2 linked regions of the Homo sapiens genome follow. The protein of the gene in region 1 interacts with the protein of each later gene in a biochemical or structural test. Each region holds a gene or a part of one and is shown on either strand. Other genes may lie near its edges.

The links.
Region 2: the proteins of RCC1 (region 1) and ERCC6 form a complex in vitro, tested with the Homo sapiens proteins (one large-scale study listed by BioGRID).

What each region holds. Positions count from the first base shown.
Region 1 is NC_000001.11:28,526,528-28,530,346, forward strand, and holds part of RCC1 (regulator of chromosome condensation), read left to right. Parts: exon of another isoform or gene 1-86; intron 87-406; exon of another isoform or gene 407-711; intron 712-3,330; 5' UTR 3,331-3,339; coding exon 3,340-3,412; intron 3,413-3,819. UniProt on the Homo sapiens protein: Guanine-nucleotide releasing factor that promotes the exchange of Ran-bound GDP by GTP, and thereby plays an important role in RAN-mediated functions in nuclear import and mitosis.
Region 2 is NC_000010.11:49,469,558-49,473,376, reverse strand, and holds part of ERCC6 (DNA excision repair protein ERCC-6), read left to right. Parts: intron 1-348; coding exon 349-468; intron 469-906; coding exon 907-1,001; intron 1,002-2,256; coding exon 2,257-2,402; intron 2,403-2,487; coding exon 2,488-3,195; intron 3,196-3,819. UniProt on the Homo sapiens protein: Involved in repair of DNA damage following UV irradiation, acting either in the absence of ERCC6 or synergistically with ERCC6. Involved in the regulation of gene expression.

The sequences.
Region 1 (3,819 bases):
CAAAGTTCACATCGTGAAATTCCTTAGCTTTGTCACTAGAAGCAACAATTTCTGTAGGACACACAAAGGTGAAATCCAAAGGATAGGGCTGGGCGCGGTGGCTCACACCTGTAATCCCAGCACTTTGGGAGGCTGAGGTGGGTGGATCACCTGAGTTCAGGAGTTCAAGACCAGCCTCACCAACATGGTGAAATCCCATCTCTACTAAAAATACAAAAATTAGCCAGGCGTCGTGGCAGGCGCCTGTAATTCCAGGTACTCAGGAGGCTGAGGCAGGAGAATTGGCTTGAACCCAGGAGGGGGAGGTTGCAGTGAGCCGAGATCGTGCCACTGCACTCCAGCCTGGGTGACACAGCAAGACTCCGTCTCGGAAAAAAAAAAAAAAAGAAAGAAATCCAAAGGATAGAAGAAAAGCACCAAATATTTCCCCTCAAAGTCATCAAGGCTTAGGTCTTTGAACTCTCCATTGACCACGGCTGTACCCTTAAAATAGGGCGCATGCTGGGTGACATCAGGTGCATGGTATGAGGAACTGGTACCAGAATTTTGCTTGACCGGAACCAGACCACAATATGTTTGTCAAACTTGTTCTTCCAGAAGCAGCAGGCCTGAGGGCTGCAGTGGCAGAAATGCCCCCAAGGAATGGCACTCACATGCCGGGCAACTGATGCTCAGAGTAACCTTCCCACAGCAGCCGCGATCTTCAGTGCATGTGTGTTTTTGTTTTTTTGAGACAGTGTCTGTCTCTTTCGCCCAGGCTAAAGTACAGTGGCACAATCTCAGCTCAATTTAGCCTCAGCCTCCCAGGCTCACGCCATCCTCCCACCTCAGCCTCCTGAGTAGCCAGGACTTCAGGCGTGCACCACCATGCCCGGCTAATTTTTGTAATTTTTTGGATAGAAATGGGGTTTCGCCATGTTGCCCACGCTGGTCTTGAACTCCTGGGCTCAAGCGATCCTCCTGCCTCGACTTCCCAAAGTGCTAGGATTACAGGTGTGGTGGCACCTTGTCTCTAAAAAAAATCAATCAATTAAATAAGAAAAGAAAATAGCTCTTCTCCCCCTCTGATTATAACAACACATTACCAAAGTTACTGGTGCTTACATGGGGTTGAATGGAGTTATGATGGATATTTCATTTAATGTTGTTCTTCAATGTTTTAATTTTTTACAACAGACTTAAAAATTTTTTAAATACATGTGGCCAGGCACGATGGCTCACGCCTGTAATCCCGCACTTTGGGAGGCCAAGGTGGGTGGATCATCTGAGGTCAGGAGTTCAAGACCAGCGGGACCAACATGGAGAAACCCCATCTCTACTAAAAATACAAAATAAGCCGGGCGTGGTGGCACATGCCTGTAATCCTAGCTACTCCAGAGGCTGAGGCAGGAGAATCACTTGAACCTGGGAGGTAGAGGTTGTGGTGAGCCGAGATTGCGCCATGGCACTCCAGCCTGGGCAATAAGAACAAAACTCTGCTTCAAAAAAAAAAAAAAAAAAACATGTAATCGGCTGTACGCAGTGGCTCACGCCTGTAATCCCAGGACTTCGGGAGGCTGAGGCAGGTGGATTACTTGAGATTAGGAGTTTGGGACCAGCCTGGCCAACATGGTGAAACCCCGTCTCTACTAAAAATACAAAATTTGGGCTGGGCACAGTGGCTCACGCCTATAATTCCAGCACTTTGGGAGGCCAAGGCGGGGTGGATCACTGAGATCAGGAGTTCGAGACCAGCCTGGCCAAACTGGTGAAACCTCGTCTCTACTAAAAATACAAAAATTAGCTGGGTGTGGTGGTGGGTGCCTGTAATCCCAGCTACTCGAGAGGCTGAGGCAGGAGAATCACTTGAACCCAGGAGGCAGAGGTTGCATGAGCCGAGATCGCACCATTGCACTCTAGCCTGGGTGACAGAACGAGACTCCATTTCAAAAAAACAAAAACAAAACAAAACTTAGCAGGGCATGGTGATGCACACCTGTAATCTCAGCTACTCGGAAGGCTGAGGCACAAGAATTGCTTCAACCCGGGAGGTGGAGGTTGCAGTGAGCTGAGATCATGCCTGTGCGCTCCAGCCTGGCGACAGAGTGAGACTCCGTCTCAAAAAACAGAAAAATACATGTAATGCTCCTTGTTAAACATCTTAGATAATATAGGAAGATAAAACGAAACAAGTAATGATTATCTATAATACCATTTTCCGAGGTTACCATTGTTAATATGGGATATATTTTCTTCCCCACATTTTTCTCACATATTTTTTGTGTATGCATTTTTTTTCCAAAAAAAAAAAAAATGGATGATAGGCTGTTTTTCTTCCTTTTTTTTTTTTTTTTTTTTGGTTGGGGGGTGGAGTTTCACTACTCTTTCTCCCAGGCTGGAGTGCTGAGTGCAATGGCATGATCTTGGCTCACCGCAACCTCCACCTCCTAGGTTCAAGCAATTCTCCTGCCTCAGCCTCCCAAGTAGCTGGGATTACAGTCGCACACCACCATGCCTGGCTAATTTTTGTATTTTTTTTTTTTTTTTTGGTGGCGACGGGGTTTCACCATGTTGGCCAGGCTGGTCTCGAACTCCTGACCTCAAGTGATCCACCCACCTTGGCCTCCGAAAGTGCCAAAGTACTGGGATTACAGGCGTGAGCCACCGCGCCCAGGCTTTTTTTTTTTTTTTTTTTTTGAGACAGTCTGGCTCTGTTGCCCAGGCTGGAGTGCAGTGGCTCGATCTTGGCTCACCACAACCTCCACCTCGCGGGTTCAAGCGATTCTCCTGCCTCAGCCTCCTGAGTAGCTGGGATTACAGGTGCCCATCACTGTGCCTGGCTAATTTTTGTATTTTTAGTAGAGACGGGGTTTTGCCATGTTGGCCAGGCTGGTTTGGAACTCCTGATCTCAGGTAATCCGCCCGCCCCGGCCTCCCACAGTGTTGGGATTACAGATGTGAGCCACCACACCTGGCCGTCTGTTTTTCATTCTGCTTGTTTTACTTGGCAATGGGGAACATCTTTCTATTCAATAGATTGATCTCTGAAAACATCACTTTTGATGGCTTCATACTGTTCTATCATGAATATACCACATATTTAGTTCACTACTATTGAACATTCGGGTTCTGTTTTTGTTGTTTTTAAAATGTTATGAAGGATACAGTAGAGAATATTTGTGTAATTAATCTGTGGGTGCATCCATTATTCTGTTCTTGGGATACATTTTGAGAAGTGGAATTGTTGGGCAATTCCTCTTAACGTATTTCTAGAGTGTTTGATAAATATTGTCTGATTGGCCCAGGAAAATGTTTGCCATTTCTCATATGTAGTATTTGACTGACTTTCAGGACAGGAAGATGTCACCCAAGCGCATAGCTAAAAGAAGGTCCCCCCCAGCAGATGCCATCCCCAAAAGCAAGAAGGTGAAGGGTAAGTTGGCCTTGGCCTCTTTGTGGGTACAGGTGGCCCCTTGAAACCCTAAGAACCCGGGACTGGGCTCCTTTCTTCCTGAGGCTTGAAGCTGAAGGGTGTGGATGTGCAGAGACCCCACCCAGCTGGAAGGTTTCCTGTAGCTCATTGAATCCTACCCTCTGGGAATCACAAAGTGGGCAGAAACTCCTCTCAAAGCACTCAGGCAGCACTGGCACAAAAAAAAAAAAAAAAAAACTAGACCCTAGGGCTTCACCCCAGGCAGTGATGCATTATGGTTAGGACCACTGACTTTCCGACATGGGTTCAAGTCCTTGCTCTGCCACTTTCTAGCTGCTGGGCAAGTCACTTAATCCCGCAGTTTGGATTATCAACTTCTTAAAATGGCGGCAGCCAGAGCAGCGTCA
Region 2 (3,819 bases), on another chromosome or scaffold:
TCTGGGCTTGGGAGGGGGCCTAAGGGGAGACTTGTTGTTTTTAACTCTATGCCCTACTTCTGGATATTTGGGGGCGGGGATTGTGGGCATGTGTATGTTCAAACAAAGAATGCGTTTTCTACAGCATGTATTTTCCTCCTAAAAACCCAATTTTTAAATATTTCTATTAAATATTAAAAGTAAAAGCTGTGAAATGAGATTTTGATTCACCAGAGGTCTCTAGGACATTACCATTCCTTATATTGGGAACAGCCCAGTAATTCCATGTGTACAATATGTGGAGGCAGAGGCTGAGAACTGTAACTGGTCTTAAGTGTGTGTGCTCAGTGTTGTGTGTCTTACCTCTAGGACACATCCATATTTGTGTTTCTTCTGACCACGCGGGTGGGCGGCTTAGGTGTCAACCTGACGGGGGCAAACAGAGTTGTCATCTATGACCCAGACTGGAACCCAAGCACGGACACGCAGGTTTGTTTTTATTTTTTTTTTAAAAGAATGTATTAGTAGAAATATAGTTTCATGGTTAGCGCTTTTGACTGTCCTTTGATGTTCTGGTTGGCTTCAGCATACGTTTCACATTTTGATTGTCTCCTGTTCTTCAACGTGAAAGAAGACACCCTTCAGAGTCAAATGGACAGGAACCATCTTCAGCAGTTTATCCATAGCATTCATTCCTAGAGTTGGGGTAAAAAGAACATAGGCAAAGTTACAAACATTTTTTCAAGTAGAGATGTCTTTTCAACTGGCTGTTCATCTTCCTGAGTAGGCCTTAGGTGTACTTGACGTCATGAGTCAAAATTCTAACTCTGGGAGTGACAGGTAGTGACCAGCTAGCTTTGTTTCTTATAGTCAGTGCTTGTCATTGGGAAGGATTCTCGTTGAGAGGTCTCTCTCTCTCTGTTGCAGGCCCGGGAGCGAGCATGGAGAATAGGCCAGAAGAAGCAAGTGACTGTGTACAGGCTCCTGACTGCGGGCACCATTGAAGAAAAGATCTACCACCGGTCAGTGCACACAGTGGCCACTCTTGGCTGTGCGTTCCCAGAGTCTTGAGCAGGGAATTTTTCCAAAGTGTTGTTTTTAAAAGTCTTAACATCTTAGAATAATAGTTGCTATAACTTAAGGCTTTGGTTTTTGTTTTGTATTTTTTCTTTCCCTTTAAAATATGCTTAGATGTCTTACTGTGAGTTGTCAAAAAATGTCTTTGAACCTGATAATTTTTGTACCTTATTCTACCTCAAGAATCACATACATGTAAACTTCATATTGTTATTTGAAAGGAATATTTCTGCCTGCTATGGTGTGTTGCCTTCAGAAAAATTTTAAAAAATGACAAGGTTGAATGTTACCATATTGGTGTTTACATACCACATTATGCAGGTAGGATCAGTGTGGGTGTTCTGGCAGTCTTTGACTCTGATGCCCCTTACAAAGAAGTCGACAGGATGGCTGTTTCGTCCTCTGTCTTTCCATAATGACTAGGGGATTTTAGACAGTGGTAACTTCAACAGTAGAATCAAGACATTGCCAGCTTCTCCCACTCCCCCACCACAGACTTTATCCTTGAGCCATAGCCCAGCTTTTATAGGAAGCTCTGTGCCCTTTACCACATGCTGGGCCATTCCTGGAACATTACATCTTCCTCGAGGGAGTGTTGTGTGAGGGTGGAGGACGAGTTGGATCCTGTGAGAAGAGAGCTTCCTTTTATAGATTCATGCTTTAGCTGGGAGAATAAATGACAGGGAGGGACAGGGTGGCTGGTGGAGGTGCCTGTTCCAGAGTGGCAGTGGTGTGGGGCTTCAGCAGAGTGTGGACCTGCAGGTGGGAGCAGGGAGAGAGAGGTCAGAGTGGAGACATTGCAAAGCCCAGGTAAGAGAGTTTGCTGAGCCCTATGATAGGAAGGTTCTAGGCAGGGCAGGACCCTTGGTATTCAAGTCAAGGAGGCTAAGAGAGACTATGAGTCACATGATGGCATGTGAAAAGGTGTTTCTTGAAATGTGTTAGATCTTGGAGGTTGAAAAAGCTCATTCGGTGTAAATAATAAGGTATTATTTCTAATTTAAATTCTGCAAGACCTGGGAGATTAACTGATGTATTATATATTTCCTGAATTGTAATTTTCCAAGGCTGAAAGTTTGGGGGATTATTTAGCCATTCATGCAGCAGCTGTTATCATCTCTCTCTTATATTGCTTTATAACTTGAATTTTTAGGTAGAGCTACACATTGTTTTATACCAGCTTATCTTTTATTTTTTTAGACAAATCTTCAAGCAGTTTTTGACAAATAGAGTGCTAAAAGACCCAAAACAAAGGCGGTTTTTCAAATCCAATGATCTCTATGAGCTATTTACTCTGACTAGTCCTGATGCATCCCAGAGCACTGAAACAAGTGCAATTTTTGCAGGTATTACATAAAATCATTTAATTTAAAGTAATCAATTGCACAAGATGATACAATATAGTATTAGTGGTGTTTTTCCTCTTTACAGGAACTGGATCAGATGTTCAGACACCCAAATGCCATCTAAAAAGAAGGATTCAACCAGCCTTTGGAGCAGACCATGATGTTCCAAAACGCAAGAAGTTCCCTGCTTCTAACATATCTGTAAATGATGCCACATCATCTGAAGAGAAATCTGAGGCTAAAGGAGCTGAAGTAAATGCAGTAACTTCTAATCGAAGTGATCCTTTGAAAGATGACCCTCACATGAGTAGTAATGTAACTAGCAATGATAGGCTTGGAGAAGAGACAAATGCAGTATCTGGACCAGAAGAGTTGTCAGTGATTAGTGGAAATGGGGAATGTTCAAATTCTTCAGGAACAGGCAAAACTTCTATGCCATCTGGTGATGAAAGCATTGATGAAAAGTTAGGTCTTTCTTACAAAAGAGAAAGACCCAGCCAGGCTCAAACAGAAGCTTTTTGGGAGAATAAACAAATGGAAAATAATTTTTATAAGCACAAGTCAAAAACAAAACATCATAGTGTGGCAGAAGAAGAGACCCTGGAGAAACATCTGAGACCAAAGCAAAAGCCTAAGAACTCTAAGCATTGCAGAGACGCCAAGTTTGAAGGAACTCGAATTCCACACCTGGTGAAGAAAAGGCGTTACCAGAAGCAAGACAGTGAAAACAAGAGTGAGGCCAAGGAACAGAGCAATGACGATTATGTTTTGGAAAAGCTTTTCAAAAAATCAGGTAATCCATTTGATACGTTTGCCACAGGGATGCTAGGATTAGAAAATGAGTAGGCTGTTTCTAGCAGTAGCAGTCTTTAACTGATGGTGCATAGAGGGCTGTCAGCCATTAGTGTTTTTCTTCAAAAATTTAGATTTGAAATATATTGACATTTTAAAAATCGTATTTACACCTCTTTTCTGAAGACCTAGAATAATTTGAAACTTTGGAAAACAATAGTACTTATGGCCACTCATGGGAGGTGTGCAATTCTTAAATCGATGTGTACTACCTGAACATTAGTAGGCAGTTACTTTACATGCTATATGCTACATTAATCTGATTTTCCAACCACAGGAGATTAAAGTAACATCATAAGGGAGAGGGACAAGCGTGTGGCTAGAGACAGACATTCTAGAAGTATGAAAGCTGATAGCTTATGTCAAGGGAGAAAAGTTAGGAGATGTAGACTCAACAATTGCTCAAGACCATGGAGTATATAGATAGCCCTGCTTAGTGATCCCTTAGCAGTCACTGTGTTCACAATGTGATGGCCTTGAGTTACCAAAGATTGCTGCTTATGGTACTCAGTTTAAGAAGGCAGGTTTATGTGTAGCATTTCAGAAAGACTTTTATTTAGCATGG